2 linked regions of the Homo sapiens genome follow. The main gene of each other region encodes a partner of the protein of the gene in region 2 in a complex. Each region holds a gene or a part of one and is shown on either strand. Other genes may lie near its edges. The genes, in order: FST and INHBA. A codon is read from its position in the direction of its gene.

What was found.
Region 1: the proteins of INHBA (region 2) and FST are in contact, whole or in part, in a crystal structure (PDB 2P6A), measured with the Homo sapiens proteins. Residues at the interface, in NP_002183.1 of Homo sapiens: Asp315, Phe327, Asp337, Trp338, Ile340, Ala341, Gly344, Tyr345, His346, Gly360, Thr361, Gly363, Phe368, Thr371, Arg397, Ser400, Leu402, Tyr404, Asp405, Asp406, Gly407, Gln408, Asn409, Ile410, Ile411, Lys412; in NP_037541.1 of Homo sapiens: Trp33 (codon at 11,216), Arg35 (codon at 11,222), Val44 (codon at 11,249), Leu45 (codon at 11,252), Arg60 (codon at 11,297), Phe76 (codon at 11,345), Met79 (codon at 11,354), Asp135, Glu152, Pro154, Glu155, Val180, Val181, Asp182, Gln183, Tyr188, Val190, Arg221, Thr224, Cys225, Arg229, Ser230, Ile231, Gly232, Leu233, Glu328.

Annotation. Positions count from the first base shown.
Region 1 is NC_000005.10:53,471,676-53,483,628, forward strand, and holds the start of FST (follistatin isoform FST344 precursor), read left to right. Parts: upstream 1-8,953; 5' UTR 8,954-9,116; coding exon 9,117-9,201; intron 9,202-10,656; exon of another isoform or gene 10,657-10,840; coding exon of another isoform or gene 10,841-10,910; intron 10,911-11,204; coding exon 11,205-11,396; intron 11,397-11,828; coding exon 11,829-11,953. UniProt on the Homo sapiens protein: Multifunctional regulatory protein whose primary function is to antagonize members of the transforming growth factor beta (TGF-beta) superfamily including activin, myostatin, GDF11 or bone morphogenetic proteins (BMPs).
Region 2 is NC_000007.14:41,692,703-41,701,300, forward strand, and holds part of INHBA (inhibin beta A chain preproprotein), read right to left. Parts: intron 7,816-8,598; 5' UTR 7,673-7,815; coding exon 7,285-7,672; intron 1,387-7,284; exon of another isoform or gene 1,217-1,386; intron 1-1,216. UniProt on the Homo sapiens protein: Inhibins/activins are involved in regulating a number of diverse functions such as hypothalamic and pituitary hormone secretion, gonadal hormone secretion, germ cell development and maturation, erythroid differentiation, insulin secretion, nerve cell survival, embryonic axial development or bone growth, depending on their subunit composition.

The sequences.
Region 1 (11,953 bases), on a different chromosome or scaffold from region 2:
CAATCAACAGAATCTATCAATTCTACCTGATAATTATATCTTGAAGGTAACCCTTTTACCACCTTTAATGCCTTCCCATTTATTTCCACAGTTCAAGTGGGGAGAGAGTTTCTAAGTGAAAAGGGACCTATGCCACCTTCTACTTACAATATTCCCATGGATTTCCTCTGGAATACCAGTAAGCCCAAGATTTTACAAGAGCTTATATAATCTAGACCATCCACTTATTCATTTTCCTCAATTTCCACTCTCCTTCTCAAACTCTGTGCTTTGGTCATTACTAAACTACTTTTGGTTCCTCATATGATTCCTTTCTTGCCTCCTGGGCTTTGCAAATACTCTTCCATCTCTCCACAAGCACTGCCTTCTCCTGGCTAACCCCTCCTCAACCAAAAATTACAGCTAAAGGTCACTTCATCAAGAAGGCTTTCCTTGACCCTCTTCCTCATAATGTATTGAATAGTACTTACTTATTTAATATCTGCCTTCTCTTTCATCCTAAAATCTCCAAGAAAGCCACAACTAGATTAGTCTTGTTTGCTTCTCTATCTTCATCAGAGAATTTAGAAAATGTAATTGATTTTTTATGCTTGCATGTTTTATGTTCTTCAGCTTTAGTTTTTATGAATAACAGTAGAAAAAACATTATCTTTAAAAGTATCTTAGGTTGCTTAGAATATGGGAGTAATTACAGATCTGTTTCTTTTTCTCATTAATCCTTGGGAAGCCTAAATTACAATCACTTCCTAGAAGCTAGGCAGTAAAGTACTTCTGACTCAGCCTTGCCCTATTGTTTTTTGGAGGGATCTAGGAAGTGGTGATAATAACACTTACCTGGCAGAGCAGTTAAAAAAAATAGAGATGACGTATTTCATATGTCTAGCATGGAATGGGCACTAAAACATGGTAGCTATTATTAAAGAATAAAATAATAGATATATGCATGGATTTCAGAGTGCCTGTGACCTCCTTAAAATGAATGCAACATTTTGTGTGGCTGTGTATGTGTTTGTGTCTGTCTGCTATTCTGGGGAGATGGTCCATATCTTTCAATAGCTTCTCAAGGGGACTGGGAACAAGAAAAAGTTAAGAATACTGCCTAATGGTTTTATTCAGGAAATCTGGTGCTCTGGCAAAAATGAAAATGTTGACAGTGTGATTGTTGTGTCATCTGGCTGGCCAAAGCAATGTTTTCTGCTAAAGCAAAAATTAGAAGTATTGGGGCCAAAATGATCTCAACTAAATGGTTCTTCTACACTATGTTTCCATCTGCCCAGCATGTGAGCCATTAACACATGTTTCCTGTTGACGATTTTCATATCTTTATTTGCAAGGAAACTGCACTGAGACCAGTTCAAGAGAATCATTTATTTAATGTATTGAAAAACCAAATAAATGAACTTCCTGTATATATACTCATGATTTTATATTGCTAAAAAGTGACTATTTATGGGACATTAAGCACACATTGACCAAGACTGCCTTTAAGTAATTCATCTAGTAGTTCTCATTATACATGTGTGTGTATATATATGTTTAGTCCAAAAAATAGCAAGTCTCACCATGTGTTGAAATAATTTATTTCAACACTTAATGCATCACCTGTCCCGTATTTCCACATGTTGTGTCATCACCATTTGACCTCAACCCATTGTTAAATATTTAATAGTACTGTTGGATAAACGATACAAAGTATTGTTTACTTTTGAATGTGGCATTTACATGAAAAACCAAATAAGCCAATACATGCTACAAAAGGTACAAGTTTAGGGTATAGCACTAGCCCTTCTGGTGGATGCAAAACGAGATATAAGGGGAAAGTAAACTACAGAGAGGATGAATGGGTCAGGGAGAGCAATAACAACAGAAAAGATGCCATAACTCTCCAATAAAGAATAAAGGCAGAAAGTAACTGCCACCCAAATGTTGGCATAATGGAAACTGCATGTTTCCATCTCTCAGAACTTAAACACAATAATGGATAGTTTTGAGGAGGAGTCTATTTGCATGAACATGATGAAATAATACTCAACAAAACACTAACTAATAGAGAATTATTCTTAACACTCACTGAGTGTAAATCTCATGGTGATGAAGATTATTCATTTAAAGGAGTGACTATGGTCTAAAAGAAACACCAAAAGAGTGCATGCCAGAGATTTTGATGAGTCAGCACACCACTCCTGGTAAGTGTGCTCAATACACTCTTTTTGACTGACCATAGACAATCAGCTTGGGGAAGTCTGAAAACAAGTATCAGCCTACACCAGGAAATCTTTATAACCTATTGAGGTCCTTTGAGACACAGAGCTTAAAATGACATATAATATCCTACTTCAGCATGTTTTTCAATGACAGCCAAAATAAAAAAACACACACACACACTACAGTTGAGAGAAGCTAAAGAAGAGTTATGTAAATACAAAGACATACCATGTTATTGGTTTTGAAGACTCAATATTGTTAAAATGTCATTCTCACCAAATTGATCTACCCTAATCATAATCCCATCGAGCTTTTTTTGCAAAATCAACAAACAGATTCTAAAAGTTATATAAAAATACAAGTAGGATATTCAAAGTGATCTTGAAAAAAAAGAAAAAGTTGTAGGAATTACACTACCTGTCTTCATGACTTACTATAAAGTCACATTAATCATGATAGTGTGGTACCAGCATAGAATCAACAAATAGATCAACGGAACATAAGAGAGAGCCCAGAAATAGATACACACTTACGAAGCTCTTTGATTTTTTACAAAGGTGCAAAGGAAAAGTGCAAAATTGATTTGGAATGAATTCCCCGTTGAGGAACAATGACTGTCTTAGCTCATGCTGCTGCTATAACAAAATATCTTAGATTTGATAATTTTATAAACAACAGAAATATATTGCTCATGATTCTGGAGGCTAGGAAGTCCAAGATCAAGGTGCCAGCAGATTCAGTGTATGGTAAGACTCACTCTCTGCTTCCAAGACTAACTGAAAATTCTACAAGATGATGAAATAGGATATTCAAAATCATGTTCTACTAACTTGTAAAATTTGAATTTACTGTAAACATAATTGAGGATAGCAAAGATCACCTGGTGACTATCAAGCAGGCCATCCAGAGACAAAATTCCTTATCTGAGGGATTCAGAAGTAATTCGACTTTCCCATTATCTAAACCAGGCATATGGTTCCAGGTTTCCCTCCCAAAAATTTGTTAAGTAACTTGTATGCATATTGAAACTCATTGTGCAACCCTTGCTGACATTAAGGCACCAAGGTATCTACAAACGTTATTGTTTAACATGACCTACATGGCTAATGTGGTCCAAATTACTCTTAAGCTCCTGCTTTAAGGTCCATAAATACCCCTAAGGAAAAATCTACCAAAACACTCTGGGTCCTCTCTTGCTGAGAGGCTCTGCTGCACTTCTTCTGCAGCATTCTTTCTTTCTAATAAAACTATCCTTTTTCAAACCTACACTGTCATCAGTAAATTCTTCTTACCAACCCACAGGTTGACCACTTTTCAATGCCAGGCCTCTGACATCTCGCCTGGCAACAGTATCTCACTTCTTAATTTACCATTCAGCATCAGAAATGAGACAGGATTCATGTCAAATTAAAAAGTGGGGTGACAATATGATGGATGATCAAACAGCAATTGTATCAACTACTGATGGTAATATTAAATAGGCAAATACCTAGAGAAGAACTAGTTATTAAGTGTGCAAACCACTGCTACTCTATGGAAAGCTAAAATAAGGGACCAGAAAATAAAACATACCAAAGTAACTACAGCATGCTACTCACCTTCAGCCAATGAATAATCCAGGAAGGTGGCTCTTACTTTGATTGACACGTTGTTTCCAACATAAAGTAGGGGAAACTGAACAGCAAATCCTAGTTTGCCCTCCTCACACCTTCTATGCAGTTGAAAGTGTAAATGGAATCAGGGTTAAAAGTGCTAAAGGTCACACACAGATATTTTCAGTCATATCCAAATATATGAATCATTTATGTTGTCAAAGCGACCTAAAATACTTTAGAATTTTCTATTAATCCAATGTAACATCCCCATTCTAAGGCATAATTTGAATTATTTACTAAGATTTATTTTAACTACTTAATTATGTTGAACTTGAATATATTAATATGGCTAGTTTAAGTGACTATGTGACAACTAGCTTAGCTGACTTCTGGAAACCCAAAAATATTTCTAAAATTAAAGGGGAAAGCAAGGCAATAAAAATGTTACACAGAAACAAGTAGTATCAAAAAGGAAGAGCTATCCATGATTGATCAGCTCTGTATAACACCAAAGCAACACTGAAAAGAGAAAAGTTCAAGTAATCCGTTGTTTTCTCAGTTATATATATATATATATATATATATTACATAAAACATATTTTTCTAATGATTTTTTAAAACCTTAATTGACCGGTAGTTTGGATATCTTGGGTAAACATTGCTTCTACGTACTCACATTTCTTAACTTTTTAGTTCTGTAATGATTCAACCAATACAGAACTACTGCCCCCATCCCCCTACTCAAATCCTTATGCTAGCCTATGAAGTTGCATAATGCCAAAGACTATGACACATTAAGTAACTGTTTTGTACCTAGAATAAAATCTGATTTTAAAATCATTTTAGCCTATTTTTCAAATGCTTAACTTTTGTTGTTTAATCAAGATTGATTATTTGCACTTGAAAATGTATTCATTTTGCAAAACACCTAACTTCAAAAAAAGCTTGACATTTAATCTTAAGGCAAAAAAAAAAAAAAAGCTACTCAGTTCATGACTTTCAAATAGTCTCTACATAACCTCACCCCACTCCCTCCATATTCTCTTTTTAGGTACTGAAATTTAACCAGGTCAGTTCTGGTCTCAAATAACAATGTCATATGAGTTTAAATAGCTATCTAGGGAGTTAGATTGAATCATTTGCTAAACTCTAATATTTTAAATTTATAAACTTCAGAAGGAAGACAGCTTTTGAAGCTGACAAAAGACCAATCAGAAAACAGTAGTCTTTTTGTGTGCTGCCCAGAAATTCAGCTACAAAGTGGTCCTATTGTGTTTCTCATAATTTACATTTTTATTTGGCAGAGCAGAAAGGAAAAATAAGAAGTCAAACTTGGAGGCATACAACAAAAATGAAAGGCGACATTTTTATTTTAAAATGTCCCCTTGACATTTAGATATCTACAAACCCAATATTTAACATTTACAGGCGATATAACAGTAAAAGAAATAGCAGCTGTTTTTCTGTGATGTCACTGAACAGGTGTGGTACCATTTCATACCACAGAAATGGGATGGATCTCTTGCTGATGCCCACAGAAAGCCTATAAGGAACCAGTATTGACCTGTGTCTCATTTCCTCAGTTATGATCTGAAAATAACCCTAGATGGCAAGAGTCATGGTGACTGATCTGTGCTGATTTGGAGCAGACATTCTCCCAAACAGATCAATACTATCCAAGGTGCAGCTGAAAAACAGGATGAGCTTGTATCACTAAACAAACACCAAGCTGCTTATTCAAAAGGGCAAAAGCAACACAGCACTTATGTTTTCCACAGTGTGTTTGCCAGTGACCTCAACCCTGACCTGCAGGGTCACCTTCTCTGGGACGAGAAGTAATCCTGTGTTGGGTCACCCTCTGGTACTGAGGGACTCCTATTTGTGGTGCCATTTTTTACAATGAGAGCTACTGTGTCTGCTTTGGCTTAGCCAAGACAATTACATGATGCCAAAACAACTAGTCAAGGCAGTCAATTTAGTCAAATGACTGGTCTGAGCATTTGGCATTACATAGACAAAAAATGAAATAGAAATGAAATTTTTACTTTTACCCAATCATACTGGAATTGTGAGGATACAACTTAAATTAATTTAGAAAGTTTTTGTGACATCAGTTGTTTCTATATACATAAACTAAAATAAGTATCTGGACAAACTAAATAGTTTTGCTCAAACATGGAAAATTTTTTGACTAGCCCCTCCAAATTGCTTCTATTCTAATCTTCATTTAGCTACACAGACCTTCCCCCAAAAAGGTAATCTTTGTGTATACTTGTATGACCCTTTTACATCAACATGTTATATGTACATATAGGAATGAACAAAATTAAAATCTAATAAGAACATACAAGTTATATCACTATTCTCCTTGCTATACGGTTATAAAATATGATGAGATTATGAACTTTAAAACAATCTTCCCAAAGATATTGAGAAAATAAATATGGATTAAAACGTGATTCTATATTTCTCCAGGCAAGATGACTTCATATACAACTAGGCATATAAGTAAAATTTAAATATTTTGTATAGTCCTAGGGTGGAAAGTCTAAGAAAAAGACCCCAGTTTCCAGAGGCTACTGGCCAATTCAGGACCAATAAATATATTTAAACTGGAGACAAATATAAAATCATGTAATTATGTATGATCATTGATAGCATTGCTGTAAGATCCAGTTACTTACCATCTGAGATCTTTTATGCATTTGGAATGTTTATTTTTCAACCTTGGATATACGGTTTGATACCTCTACCTTAAAAAGAAGCTGTGTCTCTTGCTGCCATTAAAAGACAGGGTAGGGGGAAAAGTCAAGTAACAATACTTGTTAGCTTCTCTTTCCTTTAACTTATCCCTGGGCAGGGGTGGGGGAACCTTTAAGCAGAGAAAACAAACTTTCCCTCCAGCACATCATTGTATAAGGACTATACCATTTCTCTGAATAAAGAAGAAATAAATTCAGCTTTGGAACTCTGCCATTGAGTGGCGGCTCCTGCAAAGGGGACAGTTTGCTATTAATTGTTAATGTCGTCTGCCATTAGAGGGCACTAAACAACTCTACATTAATGAGTTGGAGGGAAGAGAGAAAAGGAGACTGGAAAAGAAAGAGAGGGAGAAAAGGGAGGGAGAGTACGGGTAGAGTCTGGGTAGAGGGAGGGAAGGAGAGAAGAGGGGAAGGAGTAGGGGAAAGAGAGCAGAGGGAATGAGTTGGAGGACTGGAGGGAAAGGGAGAAGGGGAGAGAGACAGCGAGACAGAAACAGACAGAATGATTCTGGAAAGATTAAGAAGGATGTGGAGCCCCCACAGCCGTCTGAAGTGAGCAAAATCCAGTCTCCCCCGGGCCGCCCGAGCCCCTCCCCTCCCGTCCTCATGACGGTAATTATAAAGCGAAAAGCGGCGGCGAGGTCACCCGCTTTTACCAGCCTGCTGCACCGAATGCGCGCGGTGCAGGTGCGGCGGCCGCGGGGCTTTGTGATTCATGCCCACTTTCAAAGGGGGGCTTGGGCCCGTCTGAGAGGCACCCAAACAACTGTCTTCTAATATTAGCACGGCTGTATTTCGGGATCTATTATAGTCTGTCCAGACAGATCCCATTGTAATGGGATCTTTTATTAAAAGATTAGCACTATCTCCTGCAGTTGGTGGAAAAAAATCTGTTATCACTGAGTTATTTGCAGTTGTGGAGGGGGGAAGGTTGACGGAAGATGGGGGGTGGGAGGGCTAGAGGAGGACTGGGGGAGGGTCTGGCGGGGGGAGGGCAGTTGCAGGGGGGGAAGAAGGGCAGATTTGAAATTCGTAGAACAAATCCCAGTGACCTGCGAATGTCCAAGAATTTTGTCTGCATACTTCGCTATCTGTTGTCCTTCGGGCTTCAGATGCGAAAAGAACAAATTTAAAAGGCAGCTTTGGAATAAACAATATAGCATTTTCCGTGAAGTAATCGTTTTATATAAAAGGAAATATCGCCTCCTCAGTTTCATTCAGCGGTGCCAAAAATGTTATAAATGAGAGACCCGCCAACTTTCAGCGAAGAATGCCAGGCACTGTACTTAATAAACTGAGGCTACAGAAGTTCATTATGGATGTTGCAATCTTTTTTATTCCGCGAAAAGAGAGAAGACGAGACAGAAAGAGAGAGAGATTGGAGCCGAGGAGACTGAGAGACAGACAGAGGCACACAGGACAGAAACTGGGGAGTCTCCAGGCGGGAGAGGAAGGGGGGGCCAGACCGCCTACGTCGGCGCCCCCGCTCCGGGCTCCGACTCCAGACGCCGCGAAGTGAAAGGGGAGAAAAGAAAGGGAGAGGGCGAGGCTGTGCCGCGGGGAGACCGGGCCTGAGGTGTTAAACATTTTTGTTTGCTTCCGACTAGTCCAGACGAAGGGCCGCGTCTCGGTAGCGCTCTGCCAGGGTGGAAGGTGCCGGGGCCGGGGTTCCTAGCAACACCTCTGGGCTGGGGGTGGCTGCAAAGTCAGGCACTCACAGACCCAGACACAAAACCTCGCGGGTCCCGCGCCCAGGCTGCGGGTGCCCGGAACCGCCGCGAGGCCGGCGCGCTCCGACCCGACCCGGGGCGGGATATTTGGGCAGCCCGGGGCTCTTCGGCCGTTTGCAAAAGTCTCTTTGGAGCGGAGGAGAGGCAGCACGGAGACAAACTCCCGGGTTCCCCCCGCCACCGCCTCCAGCGCCCCCACCGCGCCCTCCCTCTCACACTCGCGCGCGCGCGCACACACACTCACACACACACTCACACACACACCCGCCACCCCGGGCGCGCCGGCGCTGCCGGCGAGCGGCGGCGAGCAGGACTTGAAGTGGGTGTTCTTCCCCACTCCCCACCCCCGACGCGTAGCCCCCAACCCCCGCCCCGGTCGCCTTCCCCCTCCCTCTCGCTCCTACGCAAATAAGAACTCGACGATTCCCTTCCAGCCGTTTTGATTTCGGGCACCTCCGAAAGATAATTGGGAAGGGTTTCCAGAAGGTGGGAAATGTCACCTGATTCACACTGAACTTTTGAAAGCTCCCCACCCCCAAGGAGCCGCGCACACCCTCGCTCGCGGCCGCCCTCCCACAGCCCCACACACTGGGAGACCGCCCACCGCAAACCGCGGAGACCCCCGTCTAGATTTAAAGCGCGGCTGCGCCCGGCTTCTGACGTCCATTGAATCGCGCGGGCGGCCGGCGGCGAGCGCGGGGCTGCGCCGGGATCGCTGCGCCCTCCGCCGCTGGCCTCTGCGACGCGCGCCGCTCGCCCGAGCCACCCGCCGCCGCGCCGGCTCCCCGCGCCGCTGCGCTCCTCGCCCCGCGCCTGCCCCCAGGATGGTCCGCGCGAGGCACCAGCCGGGTGGGCTTTGCCTCCTGCTGCTGCTGCTCTGCCAGTTCATGGAGGACCGCAGTGCCCAGGGTAAGCGAGTGGGGATGCGCTGGGGAGGCTTGGCTGAGGACAGGGGGGTCGACTTTTCTGTGGTCTCCACTTGGTCTGTTCTGAGCAACGCTGCTCTCGGAAGATGTTGAACCAACTTGGGGACTCCGGGATGGAGAGGAGTGGGAAAATTGTAGGCAATGACACTTTAGGACTGGGAACTGAGTTTGGAGCTCGGTTATCTTGAAAAAGGAAAGGGAGCGAGCTGGGGTCTTAGTAGTTAGGGTTAAATGCTCCAAGTTCTGGCCATGATAACTTTAGATGTGATCTCCTCTGTTTGGCTCTGAAGAAGGGAACAAGTATCAGTAGTAGCCTGGAGATTTCAGTCGACCCATTTGCAGTCTCATCTCTCTCCCTCCCACATCTTTTGGATACTTAAAAAAAAAAAAGGAAAGAAAGAAAAGAAAACCTGGGGGTTTGGGGGAGAGATACTGAATTTTATTTGGTGGCTGGGGGACGTGGTTTCAGAAACTTTGCCCAAACTTGGAAATGTGGGTGCTGAAGATTTTCAAGGGAAGTAGCTTTCTGCCTAGTGGATGCTTCTTCCAACCCCATCCCCCATTCTCGCAAAAAAAAAAAAAAAAAAAAAAAAGCCAAATTATTACCCCAAAGTGCTTTGAGCACTTTACAGTTTTTTTCCCCTCTGCCTCATTCTTCTTTCTGACCCTTAGCTTTCTGTAAAACAGTGAGCAGCCCATAACTGACTTAAATTCTGAAATGGGTTAAGAGCAAATTTCTGAAGCTTGCCTTTTAAAAATAGATTTGTTTATTTCAATTAGTCTTTGGGCAGAATGTTTAAAATAATAATAGCAGCTTGCGATCCAATGATTGTTAAAGTCATATTGGTGATTCATGAGAAGTCTTCTCGACCCAAATCCGAACATTAAAAAGGGGGAAGAGGGAGAAATCACTTGCAAATATTTCTTGCTAGGTATGAGATAGGTACTTATAACCGTGAAATGGTAGGAAGACTCCCCCCTCCCCCCACCTTAAGGCATTACTTTCCCTGCTTCAGCGTTAACATTTTAAGTATGTTGTAAACTGCCCTCCTGGGCACTGCCCCTCGCCGTCTGCATGGCACTGCGCTGGGTTGCCCGCCTTTAGAGGAGAGGCTCTGCCTGGTGCCCGGACGTGGGCGCGGAGGAAAGCAGCCCTCGGAGATTTCGAAAGATCGCGGTGGCCGCGGGCGTGCTCCGGTCTGGCGGATTGCAAAACGGGCCCGTCGGGCTGGCTGCGCCTGGAGGCCGCGCGGGGTAGCTCCGGGCTGGGCCGGGTTGCTTTTTTGCTTTCATTTTTCAGAAGTGCCTTTTGCTTGATCTGTTTCTCTCTCTCTCTCTTTCTTTTCTTTCTTCCTCTCTCTCTTTCTTTCTTCCTTTTTTTCTTTCTTTCTCTTTCTTTTCTTTCTTTCTCTTCTTTCTTTTCTTTCTTTCTTTCTCTTTCCTTCTCCCTCTCTCTCCCCTCCATCTCTCCTCTCTCCTCTCTCTCGTTCTCTTACTTTCTTAACCCCTGTCACAAATAATTCCTGTACCCGCCTACATGAAACCAGCATGTAAAAACATCCGTCGCATCCTGTTTTTGTCAGGTTCTTTAATCTGCTCTTCGAGTCTCTGCAGGTTATGAAATGGGACGAATAAAAGTAAACAGTCTAGTAAAAGTCAATGCAAGCTGCACGTGTTGTGTCTGGGTCACTGGTAACTGACATTGATATGGCTGGGGCGCCCTGTCTTCTCCCTCTCTCCCTCCCTCCCTCTCGCCCACCTCCCATCTCTGTGATCAGGGCTTCCCCCTCCACTGCCTTCTTTTTCCACCCCTCCACCCCTTTCGATTTATTTCCTACTTTTCTCCCGCGTCTCTCTCACTTCCCCTCCTCCACGCTCACCCCCTCCCCATCCCCGCCGGGTCTCCTTCGCTAGCCACCTCGCTCTCCCTGCCCTGCCACCGCTCACTGCTCACTCACCCACCTCCCCACCCTTGTCTCTTCACAGCTGGGAACTGCTGGCTCCGTCAAGCGAAGAACGGCCGCTGCCAGGTCCTGTACAAGACCGAACTGAGCAAGGAGGAGTGCTGCAGCACCGGCCGGCTGAGCACCTCGTGGACCGAGGAGGACGTGAATGACAACACACTCTTCAAGTGGATGATTTTCAACGGGGGCGCCCCCAACTGCATCCCCTGTAAAGGTAGGACTCCTTCTTCCCAACTTGCAGGCCCTCAGTAGAGGGCGTCTTACCCTTAGCTTCCCCACTACCTGACTGGGGTTTGGGAGTAGGAGAGCTTTGTTCCTGGGCTTCCCCTTCCTGTCCCTTGCCCTGGTAAGCCGTGCAGACTCTAATTCTGCCTGTTACAGGCTGTAGGGAATACACGCCAGACTTCTTAGCCAAGTGTGGTGGTGAAACCCACCAACCTGTGCTCCTTAATGAGAGAGATCTGGGTGTGGGGCACAGCCCAAGGTCCACACTCTTTCACCAACTCCCAATATTCCAGGAGAGAGCCTGGGGCCCCTCCAGCGCAAACTCAGGGCTGCATGATTGCGCAAGGCACCCGAAGCCCTCCTGGCTGACCTGCAGACTGCCTGGCTCTGGTTTTAATCCATGCCTGTTTCTAACTCACAGAAACGTGTGAGAACGTGGACTGTGGACCTGGGAAAAAATGCCGAATGAACAAGAAGAACAAACCCCGCTGCGTCTGCGCCCCGGATTGTTCCAACATCACCTGGAAGGGTCCAGTCTGCGGGCTG
Region 2 (8,598 bases):
ACCAGAGCAGAGAGAGCAGTTAGAGGGAGAAGCTGTCTTATTTTAGGAAGCATGATGACTTATTTTTTCAAAATCTGAATTCGATATTCCCCTTTGCTAAGAATTGGTGTGGGTTTTGTTGTTGTTGTTTGTTTCTTAACAAAATAAAAGAGAAGAAGATTCCCATAAGCAGAGCTTAATCATTTAAATCTAAAAAGGCAATCAGCAGTTGATTTTAGGGTGGCAGGGTCCTGCCAAGGCCTTAGGAGAAGGCCGAGGGAAACCTCCCAAGCCTTGGATAACTAGCCTGGAGGGTGTGCAGGTTTCCTCCAGCTTGGGCACATCTGCCTTGCCCCATAGAGAATGTTAACAAGATACCTGCTGTTTTCCCTTCTGCCTCTATGCAGGACAGCTTCTGAAATCCTAAACTGCACAGGGTGTCACTCCAAAAACAGACAGATAGTAGCTGCTAAATTAGAGAACCCAGAGGGCACAAGGTTGGGTTTTGTTTTTCTAGGAAAGAGTGTAAAACTGGAGTGTCTGACTAGTGCCCCGGATAGGGAGGCTTAATAGGTTTGGGGTAACTCATCCCCATGAGCTCTGCTCTACTCTCATCCACACCTGCCAGAAGGGGTCAGGGTGAAGCCGATGGACAGCAGTGCTGACCCGCATGCAGTGGACTTTCCATGAATAACACCCAAGGCTGACTACAGATGTTTAGGTGGGGGTGCCGAGGGAGGGTTACTTGGCTGACTAGAATTAGGGACAGCCGTGTGCAAATTGCTTTTTTAGGGCCAGAGAGGCTGAGGCTGCTGGCTTCCAGTCACACAGCCTACAGGACAGCCCCTGATTTCACAAGAGCAGGTTTCTGATGCATGATCTAGCCCCACCCCTTCTTCACAGGCAGCTGTACTTGGAAGCAAATGATTTAGTGTTCCTGAGAGAGGATTGTACAAAGAGAGTACTCATTAGAGGGGGCTCAATCTGTCAGGTGCTGTTATATTAGGATCAGAGAGTCATCATAAAATGACTTTCATGCTGGTCTTGGCTGATAATTAACTGCATGGCATCGCCTGCGTATTGTAGAGAGGCAAGGGTGCTGATTTATGCATCCGTTTAATTATCTGAATTGAAAGACTCTGTTCCCTGTATTTGCATCCACTGCCTGCGTGCTTTCTCTCTCCCCCATATTTCTGACATTTGGATTTTCCCCCTACTAATTGACATGCCTGTCGCCTCCTTCTCCTGGTGTCCATTTCTGGAACTGCTATTTGTATATTGCATGATATTTTATCAGGAAAAAATATAAAACAGATCTAATTTCATGAAAATGCTGTTGCCATAATGCTCAGGAGAACAGGGGGAAGAGAGAGATTCAAGTCTTCCTAATGTCTACCTTATATGCAGGTACATTTTACAAGTTCTATTGTATTCTGACTTATTAAGCAGTGCATATTTCTTTCTTTTACATTAGCTTTCATTGCAGAAGGGTGTGGGGAGATGAGACTGCTGGAAACTGACGTGGGATTGATGTTTATCAGGGCTGTAGGCTTCAGAAATATATTAAGCCTCGGAATGTCCTAGGTATGAAAAAGATAATAAATAACAGGTCAATTTATTATATTCCCTTTATCTCTATATTACCTGAGAGAGATTGCTATACTGCAGTGACACTTTCAAGATGCCCCAATCCTCCAATCTCCATGCATAACAATTTGAAAAAGGGAAGGTTGACTAAGGCTGGGATGTTCAGGATCAATTTCTAATCAGTTTCAGGTTTTACTCAAATATCTCATGCTGTAAACTCTTGAAATGAATGTCTTCCCATAGTGCGCCGTGAGCAGGTTCTGCATTAGTTTGTACAGGTGCGACCTAGGTTCCTGCACTATTACCTAGCTAACCAGATATAGCTGGTTGCTTTGCGAACCTTTCATTACCTGCTCTCTAATAATATTCTTTTCATCCTCTGTGCTATTTTTTCCCTCCCGAGGCTTGTGAGCAAGGCTGTATCACAGCCTGCTCTGCCTGAGTAATTCACTAAGAAAGTCCCACGCAAACCCATGTGGGTGATAATATTTCATCACTTAAACCTCTATGAGCTTGGTGGACACATACCAAAGAGAGAGAAAAAGAGGTGCAGAAAAATGGGCAAAGAGAAATTTTGTACCTCACAGGGAATACCTCTGAAATGCTGCTGGGTGGGAAGGATTGGACAGAGGAGAGACTGTGTAAGCTGGAAGGAAAGATAGCTGGAAGGGTGTTTGCAGCACATTTTCCTTTGCTTTCAGAATTTTAAAAATGTTTTGAATAAGTCAATCATGAAGGCATGGCAAGGGTTAAGCAACTAAGCCCCTTGTTGTTCCCTCCCCCTACACTAAGATGCAAAATGCTGGACTCATCCAAAAGTCCAGCATCTCAGATTTGTGGGTCTATGAACATTTTCAGTTAAATAAGCAACACACACATGCAGTGTTTCGATTTGGTTTTGTTTTCCTCACCAGGGTCCTGCTTAAAATATGTTGCTCTTTTACATATGGGCAATAGTTATGTCTCTAATGTGAATGTGGAAAGCCTCGTTGTTTATAGAACACATTTAAACTTACCATGGGATGGGGGCTGGGGGAAGCCTCCCTGTAAAAAGCGTCTGTTCCTTTAATTTTCCATTCTTCATCAAGATTTCACTGTGCCTAGATATGGTATAGTCAATGGTAAGGGTATACACAACTACCATTTACAGGGTGCATTCTCTGAAGCCCTAACTTTGCATTTGGACTGCTTCCAGGGGTTTCTGCAGAAAGCAGCAAGTGAGGTCTTAAGGTTATTCCTCCTTTGACCTACAGTAGAGGATCTTTCCTGCAGTAGAACTATAGGTTTGGCCATAAATTATCTTGATTAATTTTTTAGCTTTAATTTCCCTCCTTAGGGTCCATTATTGATTTATAAATGCCCTGGCACAAACGTCCATCATCCATGCCTCTTCCATTAAAGTGGTGATGAAAAAGGTTAAATATTTTGGGAGAAAGGGGTTTTAGGTTCCTACAAGTAGCAAAAATTCTTAAGGTTTAACCCACAAAATTTCAGAGACTTCTTCCAAAGTTCCTGAGAACTTTGGCACTTCTCATTTTGGACTTAGGAACCAGTCGAGTACGAAGAATTCAGAACTACAGCTAGGAGATCACGTGCAAGTATTTTTTAGCAGAAGAGGGGCCAAGACAAATATGTGTTTTCAAGAAAAGTGCCTGGGAAGGTATTACTGCAGTTCTTTAAATATTACAACGGACTTTCCACCCTGGCATCTCCACCACCCCCAGCCCAGTCCATCCACTGCACAGGCCGCAGACCACTATTAATCTCTTTTCCCATCTTTCCCACCATTTCTCTCCACACCCTCAGTTCGGAAACAAACGCATCCTCAGAAGCCGAACACCATGTTCCCACAAGGCATTACAGAAAGAACCTTTTTCCTCCCTGTTTGAAGTCACTTGTCATTTGTCGCTGGTGGAAACTGTTGATAAGGCAGGAAAACTAGGCAACAAAATCAGGGGAGATGGAAGATGTTTTTGTTACGACCCGGGAGACCGTATTAGGGAGAGACTTGTGAGCAAATCAGTATCGCTGATGATTCATAGTCACATTTCTCCCTGCTCCGCTTTGTTTGCTTTTGAAATTTATCACTCGTCTGCCTTCCATAGAGCTCCGGAATGTTCACATGTATCACTAGAATTTCCATTTCCTTTCCTTCTGTCTCATTTAATGTATTACAGGTAGTCATGCTTCTCCCATCTCATAAATTCCTAACTTTTTCTGCAGGATGAGAGGGAGCAGGCGGTAACTGATAATCACCAAGATTAGGGCGCTACAGACAGGGGCTTCCAGTACGCGCAACTGCCTTTCCCTGGATACACTGACAAGGAGCAAAAGTCTTTGGAACGCGCCCTCTTGTGGCCGCTCTTCCCCATTATTCACGGAAGAGAGCGTGTAACCCCTAAAGGCATCCCTAAAGGAGGGGTGATTCACAGAAAAGTTCGGAAGGTGGGATTGGAATGGTGGGAGTCAGCTTCATTTTGAGATGGCTTTCTTGGGGTGGGGAAAATGGTCATCCAAGCAAAGCTTCTTGGATCCCTGTCTGGGCAGTGCAAACTTCTAACTCAAATCTTCCATACATAGTATCCTCCAAGGGGTAGACTTATGTGTTGCGCTTAACAACACCTAGGCTACGTGAGCACATCCATTTCTTGGTGTGTCATTTGTCTTTCTTTCCCTATTCTTTCTACAACAAGTGCTATCAATTGCTAAGCTAATTACCAGAACCCACATCCAGGTTTGACAGCATATGGAGACTTAGAGGTACATTATTATTATGCATTGATTGACCACCTACTGTCATGAGTCAAAATAAAATAAAAATAAGCTGCATCAGCTGAAAAGGCCACTGAATTTAGCTTCATGACATTTATAGTGATAGCTTGGCTTTACCCATCCCTTCTATCTTTCCTTGTGAAGAACTCTGTAGGCCTTAAGGTAAAACATTGAGGGTTTTGTGCCAGCCATGCAAAGAACACACTAACCTTGGTGAGAAATCTTGGGTGATGTGACATATATAAAAATAAAATAATTTTTGTTTGTTGGGATACATTTCAGAGAGCCTTAGAGTGATTCCCTGCTGTTTAGTCAATAACAACTCGCATCAACTTTACAAAAATTGAGCACTTTCTACCTAAACAGGATGGGACAAACTCAGTTAAAAGAGTCCTCAGCACTTCAGCTTTTGGAGGCTCTCTACTTCTGTAGCCAGGCCTTGGCTTTATCCAACAATCAAGGAGAGAAAAGGCAAAAATTAAACGTAGCCTCAAATTGAAGAATCTTGAGGTTGAAAGGGGCTGCTATGGGTCTGCATCTGTGGCATGCTCATGGGTGACAATGTCTGGATTCTATGCTGCACAAAATGGTTATAAGGGAAAGAAAAATGCATTCCTTTTTCTATTCTCCAAAAACTCTTGACATTCCACATAGTTGGAATGTTATTAAAGTTGAATTATTCCAAAAGCAACAAGACATAGGTCTTTTCTATTCATGTTCATATATTTGCTACAATCATTTGGATGATAAATGTCTTTTCTGGACTAGCAAAATCAGCAGCAAAATGCTCACGTGGTTTTCTGCTTGAAGAGTAGACAGTCCATACAGCAATCATTAAATACATGAAATTACATTAAATCAACTTGAAGTTGATGTGTGAAATCCCTCAGAGAAAAATAAGCAATTGTAATAAGTGTTTTCTAAGAATCCAAAGTCAAGTTGTAAAGTCAACCAGGAGTTTCCCATTACAAATCTTAAACTTGACTCAATGTGAACGTCCAACGAATCGCTTTTTCAAAAGTCGCTCATTTTTTTTCAAACTAAACACCTAACTGAGAAGTAAAAAAATGACAAGATCTCATACAACTGAGAGAAGACTGTCACAGAAAGGAAGACCACACATAAGAAAGAATGTAAATGGTCAAATTTTTTCACTGCCAAATCTCTAAATGCTAAGAGAGTGATTTGCTATACAAGTCCAGTAAGTCAGAAAGAGGGGCATATTGCTAGTAACGGTAGTGCGGTTAAAAGTGGTCAAAGGCATAGGTATACTTAGTCATATGACATGGTTAAAGGCAACTGGATACGAGCTGTCATTGAATCCATCATGTGTGGAGGTTGGTATACAAAGACAGGAAGCAACCCTCTAGACCACTGAAATCTGTTTCACATGCACAGCCAAATATTGTAAATATTTTCTTTTTTACCTTTTCCCACCATGAAAAGTTGAGAAAAAAAAATGGGTGTCAACTTGAAAAGTTCCAACCTAGCTTTCTTCCTCAAAAAGCTCCAGAAGATAAAGTCCTAATGATCATGCCTTTTGGGGCTGGGTTAAGAAAGAGCTTTAGGGAAAGAAAGTAGGATCTTCCCTAAGTGAGAGAGGCTTCTGGTGAGAGAGCCAAACTGGGAAGCTTGTAGGACACCAGGGCTTCTCCTGCAAGGGGAAGCCACACAGCCAGCAGGCTATCTGCACCCCCGGAAAGATGCCCTGGTCTTTCATGGTTTTCTTGAAAACAGAACATCTGAGTCAACAGGTTTTCAGATTGGAAATTCTGAGTGTTGCCTTAATTGTTTATACTGCTGCGGCAAACTTTTAAACAAAAATGCTGGGAGTCCCTGCACATACTTTACTGGCCATATGCTCTACCAAACAAAACAATGGCATTCCTTTCAAATGGAGTTGGCAAAGGATGCAATTCTTTAGCCTGGCATTACCATGAAAGTAACACGGTATTAACACATCTGTGTGCCTGACGTGCATGGGCTTGCAGGCATGCAAAGGATCTGTGTCACTTAACTATAAAAATAGCCTGGCTCCAAGTCCATGGGCCCATACTTTTGACAGGTATTGCTATTCAGCAACAGGTTAGTGTGGTCCTGGGCCAACGATTAGAATCTATTTATTAAAGTTCTTCCTCTTAAGGATTGAGTGAGTTCAGCGTAGTATCTGAGAGTACTTTGTCAAGGTTGCGTTCCTTGGCAGAGAGCTCTTAGTAACTTTAGAAAGAACAAAACTGGTTGTTTTATTTATTTTTTTTTCTTTCAGAGAGCAAAAGTCAGTGTCCCAAAAGTAACTGCTGGTTCAATGACAACTGTCCCCCAAAGTAGCTCTTCCCTGTCTTGAATGTGGTGCCTGTGCACTTATAGACATTTTCTAAAGGTAAAAATGACTGTCACTCATAAATATGCCCTGCTTCTCCAATGTGGCCCCAGATTGGACTTTTAAAGGGGAAGGTTTGTTTTAAGAGAGTGACTTCATCTGTGCCATTCCACTCCAATCCTGGTACATTCACCCCTCTACCCTCAATAAAAACTTGGATGGGGTCCGGAAGCCTCCTCTGCTCCCCTAGCACCCGAAAATGCCGCGGCTTTCCTCCGGCTGCTCAGATCTGGTTTCACAGGCAGGGCAAGGCAGCCCCTCACAGTCTGCCTTCCAGCTCAACATTGGCCCCGAGCTTCCTCTCTGTGTGACCCGCTGGGTTTAGTAAGTGTAAGCCAGTCATCTCCAGGCAGAGCTCGACCGAGAATTCCTTTTCTGTAAAGTCCTCTCCCCCTCCCCTGCCTGCCCTCCGTCGGCTAGTCCGCTACCATCACCTAATAACTAATAACCTTCCCAGGCAGTTTCCAGCTGAAGGGAAAAGAAGTTCCTCCTGGGACTGTCAAAGAAATATATTTTACCCTCCCACCCCCCACCCCTCCCCACCCCCTGCCAATGCCAGCACCAACCTGACTCGGCAAACGTGATGATCTCCGAGGTCTGCTCCATAAGTTCATTCATTTCTGCCCTCCTTCCAATGTCATCCTCTATCTCCACATACCCGTTCTCCCCGACTTTGCCCACATGAAGCTTTCTGATCGCGTTCAGAAGCGCCGCCTTGGGTACCGGCTGGGTGACATCGGGTCTCTTCTTCAAGTGCAGCATGTTTAAAATGTGCTTCTTGACGGCCTCCACCATCTCTGGCTGAGAGTTGGGTACATCCTTTGGGAGGGCGGCCAGCGCACAGGACGGACAGTCGGGGGCCGCGCTGTGCCCCTCGGATCCTGGGGTGGGGGAACTCCTCACTATAATCCAGCAACTTGCCAACAGAAATCCTCTCAGCCAAAGCAAGGGCATCCTGGCAGCAAAAGTTGTTGTGATTGCCTTTTTAAAAGGCCCTGCTTTTCCTCCCCCCTCACGCGCAGGTTTTTTTGTGTGTGTGGATTTTTTTATTTTTTTTTTTGGTGTTTTTTTTTTCCTTCTCCTCTTCAGCAAATTCTCTGGAACAAGAACAAAAAGTTTTCTGTGAAGTTTTGTTTGCAGGTTCCTCTCTGAATGCAGTCAGTGCTGTAGGTTTGTGGCTGTCAGGGAGGAGAGTTCTGACTGTCTCCGAGTAAGAGAGAAGGAAGGAGGGAGGGAGGGAGGGAGACAGGGAGGGAGGGAGAGACAGGGTGGCGGGGAGACAGACAGAGACAGAGAGAGAGGATGGGAGGGAGACAGAGACAGAGAGAGAGGAGAGAGGGGGAGAGAAGAGAGAGGGAAAGAAGGGGGAGAGAGAGGGAGAGAGGGAGGGAAGGGAGGGGGAGAGGGAGAGAGGGAAAGGAAGAGAGAGAGAGAGAGAGAGAGAGAGAGAGAGAGAGAAAGGATTGGCCCTAAGTAAGTGAGTGAATGGAGAGGGAGGGAGTTTGCTGTGAGTAGGGCTGTGATTAGGGAGGGAGGGACAGCCCGTTTTCTGACAGGCTGCTCTCCTTCTGCTCTTAGCTTCCTCACAGACACCTCTCTTCAAATATCACCATTTTCGGGGGTTCTACTTTCTCTTCTAAAATAAATTATCCTAATTTTGTTCACTATTTTTTTTTCTTTCTCTGCCCAGTCTCCTGGTTTCACCTTCTTCCTTTTTTGGAGGGGAGAAAAGAAACCCCAAACAAACACAGTGTCTCAATCAATAGGGATGAATTGATTGAAAAAGTGTTCCCACCGCCCCTCCACCCAGCCAAGCCACAGCCCTAGGTGGTAGAACGCCCACCTGGCCACGTGGTGGGGCAGAGGGTGCAGGGAGGTCC